Regions from separate parts of the Homo sapiens genome. Here region 2 is linked to region 1. A link means that fine-mapping ties the variant in region 1 to the expression of a gene that starts in the linked region. Tissue or cell type: cerebellar hemisphere. Region 1 holds a variant in brackets; the other region holds the start of a gene. All regions are shown on one strand. Distances are between the middles of the regions.

The links. PIP is the estimated chance that this variant, and not a neighbour inherited with it, causes the effect.
Region 2: ALKBH3 starts here. The variant in region 1 is fine-mapped to the expression of ALKBH3 in cerebellar hemisphere (GTEx, PIP above 0.99).

The regions. Positions count from the first base shown.
Region 1 is chr11:43,926,777-43,929,536 of GRCh38, reverse strand. It overlaps LOC124902663 (a long non-coding RNA gene), which reads left to right. Exons shown (of 3, transcript XR_007062657.1): 2 at 1-1,089; 3 at 1,179-2,486. It also overlaps a transcript of ACCSL not described here. Among named protein-coding and RNA genes, the nearest start is that of ALKBH3-AS1, 7.2 kb to the right of the region's middle. RefSeq lists an enhancer at 951-1,452. The variant C/T (reference allele first, on the strand shown) is at 1,576.
Region 2 is chr11:43,879,405-43,882,164 of GRCh38, reverse strand. It overlaps ALKBH3 (alkB homolog 3, alpha-ketoglutarate dependent dioxygenase), which reads right to left and starts at 1,334. Exons shown (of 10, transcript NM_139178.4): 1 at 986-1,334. It overlaps LOC105376644 (a long non-coding RNA gene), which reads left to right and starts at 1,428. Exons shown (of 3, transcript XR_001748200.2): 1 at 1,428-1,483. RefSeq lists an enhancer at 1,349-1,548.

The DNA of each region.
Region 1 (2,760 bases):
TACTCAAGACGCTGAGGGAGGAGAATTGCTTGAACCCAGGGGCAGAGTTTACAGTGGGCCAAGATCGTGCCACTTCACTCCAGTCTGGGCAAAAGAGTGAAACTCCATCTCAAAATAAAGTAAAATAAATAAATAAATAAATGTTAAAAATTAGCTGCGCATGATGGCATGTGCCTATAGTCCCAGCTACTTAGGAGGCTGAGGTAGGAGGATCATTTGAGCTTAGGAGATTAAGGCTGCAGTGAGCCATGACTGTGCCAATGACTCCAGCCTGGGTAACAAAGGAAGACCCTGTCTCAAAACAAAAGCAAAAAACAACAACAAAAATCAAGGCCACACAAGCTCTTTCCTTCGCATTCACACACTATTTCATAAGAATAGCTGCCGGTACTGAGACGGATACATTTTGTCTCTCTCAATTGAACAACTCTGTTTTATAGAAGATGGGGAAACTCAGGCTAAGAATTTGCCAAAGGCCATGTAGCAGTCAGTGGAGGAGCTGGAACTAGAACCAGGTCTACTGGACTAAAATTGCCACCACAGCACCATCCTGCCTGGCTGGTTGCTGGCAGTCTTTCCTCTGAAGCATCTTGGATTGGGCTGGGATGAGCAACAGCCAGCATGGGGGCAGTGGCTGCCTCTCCTACCTTGTGTTGCAATGAGGAGAGGAACGCTCCATTCCCAAGAGGGAAGAATATCGGAAAGGCAGCTTCCATCCTTTTCCCAGCCTCCCTAACTCTCTTTCCCGAGAGCGGAGGAATGACTTATAAGCAGCTTGGGAGAAGGAGCTGAGCTGGGGGCATAGGGAATCTGGCCCTTTCCTGGCCACTCTGAGCTGCTTGTCTACAGAGAGTGCCCGCTGCCCAGCTCCTGCGTCCTCCATGGGGAAGGGCCAGCATCCACCTTTGAGAAGCACACCTGGAGGCCCACCTCCTCCGCTCCCCACTCGCAGGCTCACCAAGGGAGGCAGCGATCCTCCTGGCGGCTGGCAGAGACCGGGCCTGCAGCACAGACTGTTTCCTCGGATGGGGTACCCTGAGGCCTTGATAGGGTGAAGGCATATCAAGAAGTCTGACTGTGGTCATGGAGGTAAGCCAAGGTCTCCCGGCCTTATCAGTAATAACCTTGATATGCTGACCTCGTAGCTGAGTCCTGTGTCTGTTTTTCTGTTGTTTCAGCACTCATGGGAAGAAGGGGTGTTACCAGCACTAGAAAATCCGACATCTTTTCTTTTCACCATTCCTAGAGGTGTCCCCCAGGCCACATGTGCAGCCTCAAACTTGGACTCCTGCAGTCTCTCTCCCAGGTCTTCTCACCTCTGCCCAAGCCAGCTCCTACGCCTGATGTGGGCCCATCTTCCTCCCCCACCGTCTCCCCTCCAGCTCAACATAAGCTACCAAGGGGTCCCTCCCTGCTCATCAGCCTTTCAGCTGTCACTTAACAGGGTGCTCCTGCCCATTCTCCAAGTGCCTCCTCCAACAGGCAGACTTCCCTGGCCACCACCTCATATTCTGCCAGCTCTAAGACTCATCATCAGGACCCCTTGTTCCACTTTCACCTTATTATTGATGTTTT[C/T]CAAGTGTGTGTCTTGTTTTCTCAACAAATTACACACAGTATAATACCACCACCCATACTGGCTGAGATGTCCTGAGTTCTTGCTTACTCTGTGCCAGGCACAGGACAGCTTCTTCTCTGAGGAGGGAAATGGTATAAAAGACTAAGCATAGGGCCCAGCACACAGTCAGTGCTCAAGCAGGGCAGGAGTTTCTCAGATCTGCTCAAACACCACTGGCAGGTGGATAAATTGGTGTACTCTTTCTGGAAAGCCATTTCCATTATGTATTCAAAGCCTTAAAATATGCATAGCCTTCCGGATCTGGGCCAGCGACCCCACTTTTAGGAATTTATTCTAAGAAACAATCAGAGATGTACTCAAAGGTTTAGCTACAGGACTGCACCCAGCCACACCAGTGGAAGAGCTGTGCCTCCGTTTAACTGTAAAATGGAGATAAAAATAGTGCCTAGTCTATGGGCTGCTGTGAGGATTCATAAATCAGGCACTGATTATATGTAAAGCAATGAATGCAGTGCCTAGTACATATTGCAGCTTTTCAAAAGTGTTACCTGCTCTTTTTATTATTTGAATTGAAGTCTGAATGAAGTCAAAGCCCGAATGGGCTCCCTACCTCCCTCCCTCCATTCTCGTGATTTCCAAAACCAACAAAAGGGTTACTAATATCAAAAACAGCATCAACACCAACCACCATCTAAATCCAACACAAAGGAACTGGTTAAATAACAATACAACTGTATATAACACTATGCAGCCACTCAAGATGATGTCATAGAACAAGAATTAATGGCAGGCACCAATGTACCTAAGTAGAAAAAGGCCCCAAAACTATTAGTTCAGTAAGATGGTAATTTTTTCTTTTAAAAAGCACATAAATGTGTAGAAAAAATATATATACTGCAAATTGTGAAAAGCTGGCCGGGCTCAGTGGCTCACGCCTGTAGTCCCAGCACTCTGGGAGGCCGATGGGGGGCGGATCGCTTGAGCCCAGGAGTTCCAGACCAGGCTGGGCTACATGGCAAGACCGTCTACAACAAATTCTGAAATTAGCCAGGTGTGGTGGGGTGCACCTGTAGTCCCAGCTACTCAGGAGGCTGAGGTTGGAGGATCACCTGAGCCCGGGGAGGTCAAGGCTGCAGTGAGCCATGATTGCACCACTGCCCTCCAACCTGGGCAAAAGAGTGAGA
Region 2 (2,760 bases), 47 kb after region 1:
TTTGTTCAAAATACCTATGGCCCACCTTCAGAAAATCTGATTTAGGATGGATACAGGTATTTGTCTTTATAACAAGCAGTGTAAGATTTGACACAATGCAGGTATGTATGTGGACGGTAAAGTTCAATGATGCACCCAAAGCCACTCAGGAAATCAACAACAGACAGATTAACATTCAACTTATATTAAACTCCTGTCTCCAGCTAACGGATAAATCCACCTCATAATGGCTAATAATACTAATTTGACAGTTGTACCAGTAAAAGCTTAGCCTACAGCAAATGCAGAAGCACGTACAGCTACCAAAACAACAAGGAAATTCAAGCCACATGTTCCACATCTGTAATCTATTTCTTTATGCTTCTACCTAAGAAAGCTTCACACCTCAAGTTCTCAAAGGTAAAAGCTCGTTTTATATTAATAGCTTGCTTAGACTATAGATTCCCAGGTCCCATCTCCCACCTCTTCTGATTCAGTAGAGCTGAGCCAGGCCCAGGAATCTGTGTGTTTAACAAGTTCCCCCAGATGATAAGCATGTAATTCATTTCATTTAATAGGTGGAGAGACGCAGAGGCTGCCATCTGCCCAGAAGAGTTAATGACAATCAAATACCAATTCTCCAATCCCAGGAGCTCCCGTTTGACATGTTCTCTCAATTGAGGCCCTAAAAGCGTAACACAATTACCTACAGTCCCCGCAGAGGATACGACTTGCTCACCTTCTTGCTCCATTCACTGGGGAGCCATATGTTATTTGCCAGGGAACAATTGTTGAAAATAGATTCCAGAGCCCCATCCCAGATCTACTCAATTTGTAGAGTCCCAGAATTTGTTAACTAACGCCACCCTCAACCCAGGAATTCTTAATGCACATAAAGCTTGAGAACCAGTGCTGTAAAATACAAGGACTCTGGCGCCAGCCAGAACTCGCTTTGAATCCAGATCTGTCACTTCCCAGCTGCATGGCCCATGGCAAATGACTTCACCTTTCTGAGCCCCAGTTTTTCCTCAGTAAACAGGGCAGTCACTTTCCGCACGGTTGAGGTGCAGACTAAGCGAGCTCCGCAGGTGGAAGAGCTTGGTCGTGGATAAGGGCACTTCCTTTTCCTAATTTAGATCCTTCTCTTTAAGGAGGCCTAGAATGAGGCCCCGGAGGTCGCCCAGGAAGAGACTTCAGGGGTGGTACTCGCACCCCCAGCCCCGCGCACCCAGCAGTAAGTCAGGAAGGCGCACTTGCGGGCGGAGCCGGGCGCGCCCGTGCAAACCCGGTAGGACTTGGGGCAGCCCTCGCAGCCCCTGACCCACTCCGCAGTCTGTGATCGGAACCTTAAGAGTGAAGCACCGACTCCAGCAACTCCCAATCACAGGCCGCGGCATCAGGCACTTCCTCTCGACGTTACGCAGCGCCGCCACTACTTCCGGTGCGCAGTCCTCAGTCCGGGTAGTCCCACATCCCCCGCGCCTGGAGGGCCTAATCACCGAAGGTGCTGATGAGGGGATATGTGTTGCAGCGGACAGGGATTGAGAGTGCAGGGGAGCGGTGTGAAGGGGTCGGGGTTTGGCAAAGGTGGAAGTGAAGGCGTGTCTCCTACGTGAGTTCCTCGAAACTGGAGATGTCCAAGCATCGGCATCTTTGTGGCAGAAAGAGTGACCGGGTCCCTGTGGGACTAGATAAAGGGAGAGGAGTTTGGGGGACCTGGTTATAATGTGTTAGGCAAAAGGATTTGCATTTTATCCTAAAAACCACGGAGAGCCTGAAATGAGCCTCCTTTGTGTTCCTATTGCAGCCTGTGCACACCTCCGAACACAGCATTTACAGCAGGGCGTAGGACCACGCCTTAATTCACCTTGGCTCTCTCCAGTGCTAAGCAAATTTGCTTGAGTGAACAGACCTACATTTTGGCCCAGACACCACCACTTACTAGTTGTATAATCTAGGGCAAGTACTCTGCCTCTTTTTAAAATGGGTATCGCTCTTTTTGGGAGGATTAAGTGAGATAATGCATTTAAAGAATATAGCACAATGCCTGGAACACAACAAAAACTCAAAAAATGAAAAAGAGCTCACCCCATTTGAGCTCATGAGAAACATCTTTAAAATGGTCATGTTAAACCATGTACTTTACAGTATGAAAATAGCAAAAGTAGCACTGAATTGACTGTTTTATGCAAGTCATTCTCTAAGATCCGCCAAAGTATAGTCACTGTGGAAATCTTTAAAATAAGCCTGATATGAGTGTTTACCTTCAGGAAGCTCATTATAGGTACACCTCATCAATGTGTACCTATATTGTTGCTACTATCAAATCCATTTTCACAGCACTCATTATTATTTGTTATACTTTGTGACACTGAAGGAAAAAAATGATTTATCCTAGACCTGAAAGGAGAGAAAATGCTAAGGCCACACTACAGTTTTTTTCCCCCATCAACTAATTTGTCAATGTCTGCTTCTGGCTCAGGAACTTTGGCTGTATCTTCTAAAATATGTTATTTCTTTCTTTTCAATGATTATAGTTTTGGAACAGGAACAAAGAAGTCTGGATTGAGGAGTTCCTAAAAGTAGTGATTGACACCTCTTCAGCCTCTACGTAGTGTATTTCTCAAAGATCAATCCATGATTTACTTGCATCTGAAATTACTGCTTTTTTTTTGTTTAACAGAATCACCTGCGTTTTTAACAAGCACCCAAGTGATTCTGGTGCACAAAAATTTTGAAAACCTCTAGGACATATGTAGGATGACAAATTGTTCTGGTTTG